Linked DNA regions of Homo sapiens: region 1 is linked to region 2. Evidence: fine-mapped expression QTL. Tissue or cell type: hypothalamus. Region 2 holds a variant in brackets; the other region holds the start of a gene. All regions are shown on one strand. Distances are between the middles of the regions.

Region 1 (8,093 bases), 120 kb before region 2:
ACTCCAGCCCGGGCGACAGAGCCACATTCTGTCTCAAAAAAAAAAAAAAAAAAAAAAAAAGACAGAGAGAGATAATTCTTGTCAACTGCTTAGCACAGTGTTTAGTAAGTGCATAGTAAATGTGTAGTAGGTGGTAACTACTACATGGCATTCAGTATTCAGATCCTTCATAATTTAGCCTCTCCCTGTCCTTCTAGTCACACCTCCTGCGACATCACTACTCCAGCATCTCTCCCCTAACACCCAATTCTCTGTCATGCCTCTATGCCTTTCTTTCTCCTTAGAATCCCTTTCCTTTCTTTTCTAATTTTATGGGAGAGTGGAGTCTTCCTGAACACCCATTCCTCTCTTTCCAGGCACAATTCATATAACTATGGAGATGATGTCTTCTGTAGTCTCTGGAATAGTTCCAATCTCAAATATTGTCTGTTGTAAAGACTGTTCTCATTTTTTATTCTGAAAATATGGTTATCAAACCATAGCACTTACACAAACTTTATGATGGCACCTATTACATTGTATTCTAATGATTCACATGTCTGTTCCCCTCATTAGTCTGTGATCTTTTTGAGGGCAGGGGCTTAATCTTTTCCTTTTTTTAATTAAAAAAAATTGTTTTGGAGACATGGTTTTGCTCTGTCGCCCAGGCTGGAGAGTAGTGGTGCAATTTTAGCTTACTGCAGCCTTGACCTCCTGGGCTCAAGTGATCCACCCATCTCAGTTTCCTTAGTAGCTGTGACTACAGGTGCGCACCACCACGCTCAGCGAATTTTTGTATTTTTTGTAGAGATAGGATTTTTGCCATGTTGCCCAGGCTAGTCTTGAACCCCTGGGCTCAAGCAATCTGCCTGCCTCAGCTCCCAAAGTGTTGGGATTACAGGAGTGAGCCATCCTGCCTGATGATGGGCTTAATGGTCATCTGTGTATTCCAGGAACTCTAATAGTGCCTGGGACGTAGCTTGGGCTAAATAATGTTAATTGAGTGAATTAATTAATGAATGATTAATTGAATAAATAGCCCATCCTCTTATTGTAGAATCCTTTCCTTGCTCTTGCCAGTCCCCATCACTTCATTCTAATCTTAGAAACTTTTCTGGCCGGGCGCAGTAGCTCATACCTGTAATCCCAGCACTTAGGGAGGCCGAGGCAGGCAGATCACGAGGTCAAGAGATCGAGACCATCCTGGCTAACACAGTGAAACCCTGTCTCTACTAAAGATACAAAAAATTAGCCGGACGTGGTGGTTTGTGCCTGTAATCCCAGCTACTTGGGAGGCTGATGCAGGAGAATCGCTTGAACCCGGGAGGCGGAAGTTGCAGCGAGCCAAGATCGCGCCACTGCACTCTAGCCTGGGCGACAGAGGGAGACTCTGTCTCAAAAAAAAAACAATAATAAAATAAATAAATAAATAAAATAAAGAAACTGTTCTAAGATATGAATGACACTTTAATAAAGGTGTGGGTGTGTACTCACATGTACTGAAGTCTGTACCTGTGGCCCTACTTTGAGGTCATCAGATTGTACCCCCTTTCCCAAAGTATGTATTGGTGAACTCCCTTTTCTGTTTCCTTGGGGCACTAAGCCAACATGTCCTGCTCTGCCCCTGTTTCCACACCCTGCCACGTCACCACAGTTCTACTATGCCAGGAATGTTACCGGGGAGGAGTGGTTCCATGACTCAGAGGACACCCCAGGTACTGAGTGGGAGTGGGGGCGCCCCAGGGACTGAGTGGGAGTTGGTGAAATTAAAAATAAAAATAGTACTTGATGAAAATAAAAATTAAAAATATAAAAAATTAGCTGGGCGTGGTGGTGCATGCCTGTAGTCCCAGCTACTCGGGAGGCTGAGGCAGGAGAATCGCTTGAACCCGGGAGGTGGAGGTTGCAGTAAGCCAAGCGCCACTGCACTCCAGCCTGGGTGACAGAGCCAGACTCTGTCTCAAAAATAAAATAAAATGGAATTCACAGATTAGCTCACAGGGAGAAGATTCCTCTGTTTGACTGCGTTGGTCATTCTGGGATTTATTAGTCTGTTTCCAATTTTAAAATCAGAAACAGCTTTACATCAACACCAGCCGATTTTTTTTTTTTTTTTTTTTTTTTTTTTGAGACGGAGTCTCGCTCTGTCGCCCAGGCTGCAGTGCAGTGGCACGATCTCGGCTCAGTGCAAGCTCCGCCTCCCAGGTTCATGCCATTCTCCTGCCTCAGCCTCCCGAGTAGCTGGGGCTACTACAGGCGCCGGCCAACTCACCCGGCTAATTTTTTGTATTTTTAGTAAAGACGGGGTTTCACTGTGTTAGCCAGGATGGTCTCGATCTCCTGACCTCGTGATCCGCCCGCCTCGGCCTCCCAAAGTGCTGGGATTACAGGCGTGAGCCACCGCGTCCGGCTACACTATCCGATTTCTAAAGTAACTCAGGAAATGGTAGCAATCCTATGCCTTTTCGGAAAACAAGGATAATTTATTCAACAAATATTTATTTATTGAATACCTATGAGCCAAATCCTGTGCTCAGTGTGCCCCTCACTAGTTCCTGTCCTGTTTAGTTGAGTGGAGGGTATAGGTACAGGGAATTATAAAATACTTCAACACAACAAAATTCCACTGCTGTGGAATTACAAACAAGATTTTGTCTACTTTCGGTGCCCAAAGGAAGACGAATAATCCAGCAGGTGGCAGCAGGGAAACAATTATCTTAGATCTTCATAAGGGAGGAGTAGAAGGCTGCAGTAAATGCATGGGGATTTTTTTTTTTTTTTTTTTTTGAGTTGGAGTTTCGCTCTTGTTGCCCAGGCTGGAGTGCAAAGGCGCCATCTCGGCTCACCGAAACGTCTGCCTCCCAGGTTCAATCAATTCTCCTGCCTCAGCCTCCGGCGTAGCGAGTAGCTGGGATTACAGGAATGCTCCACTACGCCTGGGTAATTTTGTATTTTTAGTAGAGACGGCGTTTCTCCATGTTGGTCAGGCTGGTCTTGAACTCCCGACCTCAGGTGATCCGCCCGCCTCGGCCTCCCAAAGTGCTGGGCTTACAGGCGTGAGCCACTGCGCCCGGCCTTTTTTTTTTTTTTTTTGAGACTGAGTTTCGCTCTCGTTGCCCAGGCTGGAGTGCAATGGCGCGATCTTGGCTCACTGCAACCTCTGCCTCCTGGGTTCAAGCGATTCTCCTGCCTCAGCCTCCCGAGTAGCAGGGATTACAGGCACCCGCCACCACGCCCAGCTAATTTTTTGTATTTTTAGTAGAGACGCGGTTTCACTATGTTGGCCAGGCTTGTCTCGTACTCCTGAGCTCAGATGATCCACCTACCTCGGCCTCCCAAAGTGCTGGAATTTCAGGCGTGAGCCACGGCGCCCGGCCTGCATGGGGATATTCTATGGATGTTCGGGTCCTAGGTTACTTTATGAGGACCCACAAGACATCTGGAAAGAGGATAACCAGGTCATTCTGGGGGTTACAAAACCTGTTTTTTTTGTTTGTTTGTTTTGTTTTGTTTTGAGACAGTTTCGCTCTGTCGTCCAGGCTAGAGTGCAGTGGCGCGATCTCCGCTCACTGCAAGCTCCGCCTCCCAGGTTCATGCCATTCTCCTGCCCCAGGCTCCCGAGTAGCCTGGGACTACAGGCGCCCGCCACCACGCCCGGCTAATTTTTTGTATTTTTAGTAGAGACGGGGTTTCACCGTGTTAGCCAGGATGGTCTCGATCTCCTGGCCTCGTGATCCACCCGCCTCGGCCTCCCAGAGTGCTGGGATTACAGGCGTGAGCCACCGCGCCCGGCCACAAAACCTGTTTTAATGGAGTTATTTCATGGGCCATGAGTTTGAGAGGATCTATCTGACCGACTCTTACCCCGAATGTTTTACCATTCCTCTTTATTTATTCATTCCACAGATAATTATGGAGCCCCTACTATGTACGAAGTCACTGGAGGAGCTGGAGATACAAGAGTGAACCAAACACAGTCCTTGCTCCCCAGAAGTTTTACAGTCTGCTCAGAGAGACTGGTCTTCCCACCAGGGTTCATAGCCTACGGGGTACTTTGTTAAAAACGAGCAGTTACTACGAAGACTACAATGGGAGAAATTTTTCTGTGTATCTCCATGCCCTTTGGAGCACAGATAATTGACAGTTGGAGGCTAAAGGGGTTGGGTCGCGGGAAGGTTGTGATAAGTCCCTGATAGCCTCCCGTGCCCTTTTTTGACAGGTCTTCACTGATTCATGCATCAAATATTTACTGAACTCCGTCACTGTGCAGTGCCTAACTTTGTGCTTGAGGCAAACAAAACACAGATCTATTTCGAATGCCATTCCGAGGAAGGTAAGACATGCACGCACGTTTAATCAAATAGTAAACAAGAGTAGTAAAACAGGAAAAAGACTAAGAAGAGTTCTTGGTGGTATTAAATGTTTTGTGATATTCGACACCTTAACGTCTCTGACTTGACACCAGTACTCCCGCAGAGAGTTCTTTCCTGGGTTAGGAATTTCAGAGGACTTGGCGGACCGACTCTTGTCCCGAGTTCAGATCACTCGACCCAGTCCTAGCAAAGAACTGAACCTAAGAGGACCTGCCGAGCCACCGTAGGGACTGTCGGCCAACCCGCGCGCGCACATCTTCCACCCGTGGACTCGTCAGGGCGTGAGGACCCACCTCACGTGACCATTAGCAGCCTCCCGATTGGTTTTGCTCCTTTTTTCTCCCCAATGAGTGGGCTGATGCCCCGAGAAGGTCGGGCGCATGCGCAGTGCTCGGATTTTTTGCTTGGCTACCCGGAGTGAAGCGGCCGGGTTGGGCGATTAACAGGCCGTGGTTAGGAAGGACGGAGAAGGGGCGTTCGCTCCTTTGGGACTTTTCATGCCTCGTTTTTTTTTCAGATGTGGCTTGGTCTGGGCGCAAGGTCCCAGCAGCCAGCTTAAGCTTACTCTTCTGTGAAAGGGGAAAGTATCCCCTGTGGAAAGCGGTTAAACTTGTGGAGGGGGTGCGGGACGTGAGTTCTTCCCCATGCCAGGCGAATGGTGTGGCCTTGAGCTGGTCCAGGAGCCGGCTCGACGTGTCTGAGGGAGGCCCCGGAGGGGGCGGGGAGGTGGCCCACAGAACGCGGGTTCTGTAAAGAGACGTTGGGAAGATTCGATTCCGAGAAGAGGAAGAACCGGATTGAAAGAGAGCCAGGCCGCTGAGGGGGAGGGGGCTGCTAAGATGGCGTCGGCCTCCTCCGGGCCGTCGTCTTCGGTCGGTTTTTCATCCTTTGATCCCGCGGTCCCTTCCTGTACCTTGTCCTCAGGTAAGCCCGGCAGGGCGTGGGTAGGGAGCTGGTGAGGAATATGCGATGGGAGGAAGAGCGAGACCTAAGAGGGTACCTGTAGCTGGGAATGTCCTACGTGTTACCGGTAAGTGGGCGCGAGCTGGGCTTTCAAATAGGGATTTATGAGCGGGCAGGAGTTTGAGGAAAGGATAAGTTTGATTAAGAAGTTGTCGAAAACTTTGGTTGTCTTTGAGGAGGACGGATGGAGATTGAAGGTGGGGGTAGGGTGGCCCGGCGCGGTGGCTCACGCCTGTAATCTCAGCACTTTGGGAGGCCTTGGCGGGCGGATCATTTGAGGTCAGAAGTTCGAGACGAGCCTGGCCAACATAGAGAAATCTCGTCCCTACTAAAAATACAAAAATTATCCGGACAGTAGTGGCGTGCATCTGTAATCCCAGCTACTTGGGAGGCTGAGGCAGGATAATCCCTTGAGCCTGGGAGGCAGAGCTTGCGGTGAGCCGAGATTGGGCCACTGCTCTCCAGTCTGGGCGAGAGAGTGAGACCCTGTCTCAAAAAAAAAAAAAAAGAAGTTGCGGTAGGAAACAAGAGAAACGGAAGGGAGTAGAGAAACTAAGAAAGTAAATGGAGGCCTAAGAAGTAGAGAGAACTACTTAGTGTGAGAGGCAGGTGGAATCTAAGTTGATTGTGGGCTAATTGGATGAAAATGTTGAAGAGAAGCCATGGGACTTAAAAGATATCGAAAAGTTATTGGACGCTTTCGATTTCTGGAGAGGTAGGGAATCGTGAATTTTGTTGGGTGGGCGGGAGTTGTTGAAGCCATCTTTTCCCTCAGATACTCCCCCCTAATGTGTCACCCCTTCTCACTTCGCACCCCCACCCTTAGGGCCGCACAGGCACACAGACACACATACATACTTTCTCAGACTAATTCCTTTGGTGATTCCCAACTCTAAACTGCCCAACTTTGGGAAGGAATGGAAATTTTGAAGAGAGTCTAAGGAATGTAGGAAATTAAGGTCAAAGACCTTAAAAACAGATGGGAAAGATGGAATGGAGTCTTGAATTGCAGTAGAGACTGCGAGAAGTGATGTTTTGGAAATTAGGCCTGAGAAGAAGAAAGATGGGTGGGGGGGTGACTGTAAGTGTTGTGGGGGAGTATTGCATAATAGAAAAATGGACTGGAAGAATGCTTACGCTGTATCAGGAGATTGGAATTTGGAGAATGGAGCCAGGTTAATGTAGAGAGCTCAGCGTATTAATAGTTAAAAACGAATGAAGATTGAGGGAGGGCTGAGGAGGCTCACAAGAAAAGCAGTAGATTGTGTGTAGGGGAGAAAGTGTGTGTATGTGTGTCGGGTGGGGGGGCGGGAGGTGAGTCAGAAACTGAGCGCTTCCATCAGAAGTGTCTGGTGTTTCACAGTAACTGCTGCTTCTACACTGGAATAGACGCTGCCAGATGTTGGATGCTTTGCTTGAGATTTTGGTATTTCCTCAGGCCTGGTGTTGCGTTTTTGCTGTTTAGAATTTGCTGAATAGGGTTCCTTCCACCTTTCACATTCCAGCTCAGATGCTGAAATATCTAGTCACACATATCTTCTTAATAAGCTGCAGTTTTATTTATTTTTAATAAATCTCTATTTTTAGTTTGTTGAGAGGGGATTTTTTACCTTTCCTATAAAAGTATTAGGGGACCAGAACAACTCATGCTGCATTATAAGCATGAAATAGGATAAAGTAAAAGTGACAGGGTATTTATTTATTTATTTATTTATTTATTTATTTTTGAGACGGAGTCTCGCTCTGTCGCCCAGGCTGGAGTGCAGTGGGGCCATCTCGGCTCACTGCAAGCTCTGCCTCCCGGGTTCACGCCATTCTTTTGCCTCAGCCTCCCGAGTAGCTGGGACTACAGGCGCCCACCACCACGCCTGGCTAATTTTGTTTTTTGTATTTTTAGTAGAGACGGGGTTTCACCGTGTTAGCCAGGATGGTCTCGATCTCCTGACCCTGTGATCCGCCCGCCTTGGCTTCCCAAAGTGCTGGGATTATAGGCGTGAGCCACCGTGCCCCACCTGGGTTTTTATTTTTAATAGAGTAGCTCCTTAATTTGAAACCTGCTTCCCCTCTAATCCCCAACCCAGAAAGAAGAAGGGTTGTGTATGGTCCATAAACAAACTTCTCAACTATTAAGTCAGGTGTTTGCTTTGTACTCTTTGGTATTTTTGTAGGTCTTTATGTTTTCTGTCAGATCCTCTCACTAACAGTTAATAATACAGATTGTATAAATGTTTTTGTGGTTTTTTTTTTGAGACAGAGTATCATTCTGTCACCCAGGCTGGAGTGCAGTGGTGCCATCTTGGCTTACTGCAACCTCTGCCTCCCAGCTTCGAATGAGTCTCCTGACTCAGTCTCCCAAGTAGCTGGGAATACAGGCATGTGCCATCATGCCTGGCTATTTTATTTTTTTGTGTTTTTAGTAGTGATGGGGTTTCATCATGTCAGCCAGACTAGTCTTGAACTCCTGACCTCAAGTAATCCGCCCACTTCGGCCTCCAAAAATGCTGGGATTACAGGCATATCGCAAGGTCAGGAGTTCGAGACCAGCCTGGCCAACATGGTGAAACCCCATCTCTACTAAAAAATACAAAAAAATTAGCCAGGCATGTTGGCGCAGGCCTGTAATCCCAGCTACTTAGGAGGCTGAGTCAGGAGAATTGCTTGAACCCGGGAGGCAGAGGTTGCAGTGAGCCGAGATCACACCACTGCACTCCAGTCTGGGTGACAGAGCAAGACTCTGTCTCAAAACAAAAAAAAGGGGGCAAAAAGTGGCTAAATTTC
Region 2 (8,101 bases):
ATTCTCAAATCAGCATTTGGGTTAGGGGCCCCTAAGTTACGTGAGCATGTTAGAAATGTGACCCCAGGCCTCAAGAGAGAGGCTCTGCCACATGAGAGGAGATAGGAATCATGACTGAAAGGGGATTAGCACAGAACAGAGAAAACTGATTTGATAGACAAATCAAATAGAAAATATAAAAAAAATCAGCCAAACTCCCAGAGGTCCTGCATTTCCTCTCACGTCTTTGCCCAGCAACAAGGTCCAAGACCCTGTGGGACCAAAGGGTCAGGGGTTAGTCCAGAGGGAACAAGAAAGGAGAGGGGATTAAGGAACATCCTGGGCAGTGAGCTGGGAAAAGGGAAGAACTCAGACCTGGAAAAAATGTGGTTGAAGTTAAAAAAGAAAACCAGTTGTGGAGAGGCAAAACTTTCCTTCAGGCCAAGTCCTATTTGTTTTTGGAGTCAGCTCACCAGCACAGGGCCTAGCATTTAGAAGATTATGAATAAATATTTGATAATCTGACGGCAGAAGCCATGGGGAAAGGGTTCTGGGTGGGAGAAACAGGATCCTGGGGGTTTCTGCCAGGCAGTTTTTGGCTCTAATCCAGGAGTGAATTCTACCTCTCTCCCAGCTGTTTGCTCCAGACACTCAGGAGCTGGGGGCTGAGCAGCACTGTACTCCAGCTGTCTCTGAGAGAAGGATCAGCTGAGCTCATCTCAGCCTGGGCTCAGGATTTCCACCGCAAAGGTCAGGGGAACTCCAGCAGATCTGGGAGGTCTGGGAGGGAGGAGCTGATCTCCCAGTAAGAAAAGGGGCATTTTAACTCCAGCCTTGGCCTGGGGGCTCAGAAGACCTGGGGACGGAGAGGAAATGCGGCCACTGGGGGAGCCTGCCACCCCGTCCCAGCCTGGCCCCACTTACGGAACTGAATGAATTATCAATACTCTCGGTGCTGGAGGAGAGCTCCTGGGAAAGGGCCAGAGGGCAAAGGGAGAAGGAGGGGGTGGGAAGGGAGGGGAGAGAGACAAAGGTAAAGAATTTAGCTCCAACTTGGATCGTAACTGCTTCTCTAGTGAAGTTCTACCTTTCTGCTTTAATAAAAGAAAGTCAACTCAGAAATGCTACTTGCCCAGATGCTTGACCACTTGTAGGAGATGCTGGAAGGGCAGCTCAGACTTTAAGGTCAGAAGGACTGAAGAGACAAAGCAGCCTCTGCTTTTCACTTTATTCACTTCTATTCTCAACTGAATGGATCTTCCTTCTAGGCCAAAGCTCTAAAGCTGGGTCCCTAGGGCAGTAACTGCACTGCCAAGCTTCCCTGCTCTTTTTTTTTACCCACTCACATGCTCTCAACCAAATCCTTCTCCATGGGGACCACCACAGGACTGAACTTAATAAGCTGCATGGCTCCCATACTGGAAACCCCATGTTCCTCCAGCTTTTTGGAAACCTCAGGGAGGAAGAAAAGCTAAACTTTCAGTGGCAGGTATACCTCTTCTCTAATTAGCCTCATTATCACCCTGGGAAGCTGAATCCCAACCTTGAACCTCTGTGACAAAGAGCATCCTAGACCAATAAGCCCAAAATCTCTGGGCTGGATGCTGATGGGAGTGAAGGATAAATCAATCTCCTATCTACCAAACCTCCTTAGGCTTCCTATCAGGCTATCCACATGACAATCAATATACTACAATTTTTGATATAAGTTGGGGAGTTAGCTATATCCATCTAGAAAGCTGACTAGCTGGATAGCAGCTGTCCTAGTCCCAGCCCAGAGGATTTATCTAAACATCACCCCATTGCTGTGTCATATGTGTCCGTGTGCAAAAACAGGGGAAAGAGATGGTGTCAAACTCTCACTCAGCAGCTCTGAGGCAACACTCATGCACAGGGCTCATCCTGGGTTCTGTCCAACATGGTCTACCAGGGCAGGGAACAGAGCAGCACGTGTGCACAAATCTAGGTTGTGGGGGACGTTGAGGTCGGGGTGGGGGAGGTTAGACTTAAAAGACAAAGTCCTAAGAGCTCCCAGGGCAGGAGGGCAGTGGTGAGTTTCTACTCTGAAATCTGCTGAGTAGATTCAAGCATCCACTTGAACTCAATTCCATGGTTTCAGTTCTATTCTAGCTGGAGGTCCTATAGTCAGGTCCTTCCTTGAAGAATCTGGGGACTGGAGCACTTTGAGGGAGAAGCCACATTTGGAAACATGCCCCTAAGGCAACAACTCTTCCATTTTGGGTAGAAGGTGGTGGGAGAATTAAGGCAGTGAGGATGTCAGAGTCTATTATGAATTAGTGGTTCTATTTCTACCTATGAGCTGGTTGGAGAAGGAACAGCAGGCAAGATATTGGCTCCCTGAGCAACGCTCCAGCTGATTCTGTCACAGACAGGTCCTGTCTGACTCATTGACAGCCCTGGGGGAAGGGAGGTATATCATGACCTGCTCCTCTCCTACTCCCTGGGCTTGAGTCACTCACACTGAGTCAGCTCCGGGGAGTAAAGATGAAGCAAGAAGCTGACATCACACCATATCAAGCTAGAAGGCCTACTGGGGCTTCCAGTGTGACATGCGGCAGATTTCTCTGTACAAAGGTTGCAGTCCTGAAAAGACAAAGCTAATCTACTAACAGTGTCATCATATCGGGGAGGGTGTGATACCTAAATCACTCTCTCCTTTTAGCTCCCCCATTCTATACCAAAATATTTGCCATTTGGTTACAAATGGGAGGACAAACTGCCTGGGCAGAGTTCCCCGACTAGGCTGATAAAATGGCTTTGAAGCGGCAGGCTTTGAGGAGCAGTGGTGGAAAATGTGAAAAATCAGCACAAAGCCTTCTGACTGTGGGAGAGAGTGTAAAGGATTCCTCATAGTAAGAAAGAGAACACTGTGAGAGCTGAGCAGAGAACAACTCTGCAGGGAGACCATGGGCAGGAAGAGAACTGTACATGCTGCCCCTGAGCCTCTTCTTTGAGGCCCGACCTCATCCTTGGGAGCCCCTCTACTGGTGGTAGGAGCATAGTATTAAACTCAGAACCTAAAAGAAAAGCAAGAGACTGGGAGCAGAGTGTTAGGGTCTACCTAGAGATTCTCCTAGAGTATCTCTGCTTAGGTCTTAGATAATTATGTGCCTCATTTTAGTAAGCTGTATACTTCCTGCTTATGGCAGAAAACAACTTTTTCAAGAGAGTCACAAACTAAACAGTTCCATAGATACTGGGGTTTTCATTATTACTTCACATGTTCCTAGAGGGAAGGATAACATTTTATCCCCCGTCCTCCACAGCACAGCTCACGGCTTTGGACATTGTACAAAGTCAATAACTACATGTTGAGTGAATGAATGTTACATGAAAGGGAAGAAGGATGAGTAAAAGGAAAACCAATTCCTTTGGTATTTAGGGGACAAAAGCCTTGACAGACGCATCCTCAAAATGCCAAAGGGGCTGGGTCTAGTCACTCATGCCTGTAATCCCAGTGACTTGGGAGGCTGAGGCGAGAGGATGACTTGAAGCCAGGAGTTTGAGACTAGCTTGGGCAATAGAGCACGACCTCATCTTTACAAAAAAATTTTTTAAAAATTAGCCAGGTGTGGTGGTACATAGCTGTAGCCCCAGGTACTTGGGAGGCTAAGATGGGAGGATTGCTTGAGCCCAGGAGTTAAAGGCTACAGTGAGCTATGACTGTGCCACTGCACGCCAGCCTGGGCAACAGAGCAAGACCCTGTTGCAAGAAAAAGGGCGGACGGACAGACAGACGGGTGGGCGGAAGGAAGGAAGGAAGGAAGGAAGGAAGGACGGATGGAAGGAAAAGGGCTGGGAGAGACCCCTGTGCTGACGACTCTAATGCTTAGAAACCTAGTGATATTCATGTTTCTGTCTCTTTCTTGCTCTCCCATTTTCTGTGGAGCCATAATGAATTCAGGTATTTCATTCTGTCAGTATCAGATAACGCAGGAGTGCCTGGGAACATAGTATCTCCTTCCTCTCCTGGATCTAGTGACCCAAGATAAGGAGTCAGGTTGGAAGAACGGCAGCTACAGAACCCACCCTAAATGAT[G/A]TAAGTATTCACCTAATACCTGCCTCTCAGTGCCATCCATAATCTTATCCTGGAGTGGGAGTTAGATGTAAGGAAAGAGGGACCAAGGATCAGCAGAGTAAGAAAAGCCCTGAGGCCTCAGCTTTTCTGGTCCTAAGATGAGCACTACAAAATGGATAAAGAGAAAAGCCAAGCCTGACAAGAGGCACCAAGGAATTCACTTCCAGCTGCTCACCCTCTGCTACAGGTTTGACTCCAAGATGAGACAGCTATCCAACCCTTCATGTTCCACTAGAATCTGGATGACTCTTCTTGTTCTGCAGCAACTTCTCTTCATGACCCAGGGCTCTGCTGCCAAGCTCAACCAGATATGAAAACGGTTCATTCTAGTTCTGACAACAGTTTTGGCTTTGCCTGTGCATGGATGTGGAAGCTCAGATGGCCATAGCCTGGGCCGTTCTTCCCCACATGGCTTCTGACAGCTGGGGACCTTGGGAAGTAGATATTGAGAAATAACCAAGGTAGTTCAGCTGAATGATTATGAGCACCAGCTGGAGATTTGAGTCCTGGTCTGACATTCACTAGTTGAGGGACCTTGGGCAAAACATCTAATCTTTCTAAGCCTCAGTTTCCTTGCTGGCAAAATAATACCTGTCTCTCAGCATGGTTGTGAGGATTAAATGTAAAGTACTTGGCAAGATGCCTGGCACATAAGTGCTGAATAAATGTTAGCACTTTTAGCTTTACCATTATTAAACTATCCTAACAAAATTCCAAATTTCCAGAGAGCAGGCTCTATAGTCTCCCTCCCTCTTCCTTTTCTCTAGTCACTCTGACTTCCCTCTATTTGAAAGAAGTCCCATTGTATCAAAAACGTGGGTGGGTTATATGCCCCACAGAGGCAGATGCCAAGACCATAGCTATCCGCATTTTTCAAAAAGTGCAAATTCCTCCTTTTTTTCTCCCTCTTTTCTAGGCTGGGTTGGAAGCCAGGATGGGAGCCTGGCCAATGGTGAGTCAGAGGGGAGGACTGGAGCACCATTGTCTGGCTGGGACACCAGGTCACTGACACTTGGTAGTCCACTGGGCAGCTTTCCCTGCTATCTGTCCAGATGTGGAGTGAAGAGTGGGTATAACCTATTCATGTGGCCACCTCTTCCCTGCTCTATATCCTAAGTTATACCTCCAACTGCTGCTGTAGCTTCCTCTTCTTCCCAGCCTCCAGGTCCTTGACTAGGCACTATATTTACTCTATACTAAGAGTGCTTTCTCTTCCCTTTGTGCTTCTCCCAAATGGTATGGGAAAGATACCAGCAAGGCACTCTTCCCCCTAAGGAAAGGCAGGCAATGAAGGCATTCTCCAGATGCCTCAGTGATAAGAAATAAACCTTACACTTATGTCAACAAAAGGTAGGATCTTCAGAGGGTAGTGAAAAGGGATTAGATTATGAGGAGGAGTGGCCAGGAGAATGAAGCCGATGTTCTAACATCTCCCCTACCCCAGCACACAGAAAGACAATAGTACCTTTTCCTTTCCCACAGATGCTGCTCTGAGAGGCTCTGGTAGCTATCTCAAGTCTCAGGTCAGGGTGTGGAGGGCTTCTGCCACAGTTCTCATTAACATAGTAGATGTTAATGGAATGGCAGTTTATTTATTTATTTATTTATTTAGAGACGGAGTCTCACTCTGTCGCCCAAGCTGGAGTGCAGTGGCGCGATCTCTGGTCACTGCAACCTCTGCCTCCCAGGTTCAAGTGATTCTCCTGTCTCAGCCTCCCAAGTAGCTGGGATTACACGCGCCCACCACCACGCCTGGCTAATTTTTGTATTTTTAGTAGAGATGGGATTTTGCCATGTTGGCCAGGCTGGTCTCAAACTCCTGACCTCGTGATCTGCCTGCCTCAGCCTCCCAAAGTGCTGGGATTACAAGCGTGAGCCACCGCGCCTGGCCAGTGCAGTTTAATAAAAATGATTTGGGACACAGTCAGGAGCGTCAGCCTTGCCATGACCTATATGACCTGAGGCAACTCACTTTATCTCTCTGGGTCTGAGTTCTTCCTTTGTAAACTAAGGCAGGCAAAATACATGAATTCTAAGGCCTTTCCATTCTAACATTCCATGCTTTTATCAGTGAAATGAAACAGGGAGGACAGAAAGAACAGCGTAACCCTGTGTGTATATAGGAGGCATCCTGTCTCCATGCAGCCCTCTACCACCTTTTGTCTCTGGCCCTCCCCAGAATTTTACCTCATCCTCATTCTCCACTTTAGGGTTGCTGGCTGTTCGTTTCAGGTTGCTGCTGAGACTTATGCTGGCAGTGGCATCTGACTTAGAGCGCTGGTGAGTCCTTTTGGAGGGAGACAGCCCTGTGTCAGGGGCCGGGCTCAAGGAGGGCAGCTCCCTCTTCCTGTGAGCTGGCTTTAGCTCATCTGAGAGGATCAGCTTCCGTAGCTTGGTCCCACGGGAGTGTCGTTGAGTGGAAATGTGCATGTCTGAAGAATAGGCCCCAAGCAACAGGGCACACTGGAGGGAAAAGTTAATGCTCTGGCGGCAACGGTGGACTATGTAGGGCTTAATGGCATCACCCACGTCCTCATCCATGTGGATGTACATGTTAAGCAACTGGGGCAGATAGAAGTCCACGTCCTCGTTGCGAAAGCAGAAGAGCCGGTTGCCAATGTAGGCTTGTACTCCAGGCTCCTTGGAGTTATACAGGTATGAAATGGCCATGGAGATGTCAAACAGTTTTGACTCAAACAGCCTCAGCAGCCAAGACTGTTTAGCTGAGTTGTTCTGCCGCCGTCTTCTTGCTCCTTTGGCTGTGCCTGAGGCCACAGCGGCCCCCATCTCATCTTCCTCCTCCCTGATCTGGGCAGGTGGATCATCTAGGCAACGGATCTCACTGTCCACACCATCCCCATTGACCAACTCCAGTGGGGTGCCTCTGCTAGAGACTGCCACGCCTCCATGCAAAAGCTTGACTTTCTCCAACACCTCCTGGCAGGCCTTCTGGGCCACCTCAGGGTCAATCACTGATAGTTCCCCGACCCCCTCCGTGATGACACTTAGCAGGGACCCCCCATTATTCCCTGGTGGGCCAGAAGTGGGCTCAGAAGTTGGCTTCAAGGGGGCAGGCTCCACTACTGTATCTCCCATGGCCACAGCCAGACTTCGAGCTTCCAAGCTACAGGAAGAGGGAGGGAGAAAAGAACAGAAAGGGAGACACATACACACATTGGTTAGTGGTGCCATCCTCAGATCTTCCCTTTGCTATGACACCTTCCCAGGCACCTCCTCTTTTTGTCTTCCTGGACTCCTTCAAAATCAGATAAGAAGACATATCCTAGGAAGCTTTCCTGACTACCTCCACTTCTGATTACATTACTCGTCATTCCTCCTGTAGTTACTCAGCTTAGCCTCTGTTCTTAGCTTATATATGTGAAATGTTGTTTTGTATATGTTGTATTTATATAGATTTACAAATTCTTTTTGTTGTTGTTGTTGTTGTTGTTGTTGAGACGGAGTCTCGCTCTGTCACCCAGGCTGGAGTGCAGTGGCGCAATCTCAGCTCACTGTAAGTTCCGCCTCCCGGGTTCACACCATTCTCCTGCCTCAGCCTCCCAAGTAGCTGGGACTATAGGCGCCCACCACAACGTCCAGCTAATTTTGTTTTGTATTTTTAGTAGACACACGGTTTCACCATGTTAGCCAGGATGGTCTCCATCTCCCAACCTCATGATCCACCCACCTCGGCCTCCCAAAGTGCTGGGATTACAGGCGTGAGCCACTGCACCTGGCCTACATTTACAAATTCTTTTTTTTTTTTTTTTTTGAGACAAGGTCTTGCTCTGTTACCCAGGCTGAAGTGCAGTTGAACAATCTGGGCTCATTGCAACCTTGACCTCCTGGGCTCAAGCAAGCCTCCCACCTCAGCCTCCCAAGTAGCTGGGACCACAGGTGCACACCACCATGCCTGGCTTATTTTTAAATTTTTAATCTTATTATTTTTGAGACAGGGTCTTGCTCTGTTGCCCAGGCTGGAGTGCAGTGGCGCGATCAGAACTCACTGTAGCCTTGATTTTC

The links. PIP is the estimated chance that this variant, and not a neighbour inherited with it, causes the effect.
Region 1: it holds the start of PIP5K1A, and the variant in region 2 is fine-mapped to the expression of PIP5K1A in hypothalamus (GTEx, PIP above 0.99). The same link has a PIP of 0.9 or more in cerebellar hemisphere and whole blood.

The regions. Positions count from the first base shown.
Region 1 is chr1:151,193,806-151,201,898 of GRCh38, forward strand. PIP5K1A (phosphatidylinositol-4-phosphate 5-kinase type 1 alpha) reads left to right here and starts at 4,747. Exons shown (of 16, transcript NM_001135638.2): 1 at 4,747-5,276. The coding sequence starts at 5,192. It overlaps LOC124904419 (a long non-coding RNA gene), which reads right to left and starts at 4,720. Exons shown (of 2, transcript XR_007066620.1): 1 at 4,646-4,720; 2 at 4,302-4,535. RefSeq lists enhancers at 4,845-5,044, 5,145-5,224.
Region 2 is chr1:151,309,308-151,317,408 of GRCh38, forward strand. PI4KB (phosphatidylinositol 4-kinase beta) reads right to left here. Exons shown (of 12, transcript NM_001369623.2): 2 at 6,266-7,202; 3 at 904-948. The coding sequence starts at 7,174. Among named protein-coding and RNA genes, the nearest start is that of PI4KB, 14 kb to the right of the region's middle. RefSeq lists an enhancer at 2,246-2,540. The variant G/A (reference allele first, on the strand shown) is at 4,040.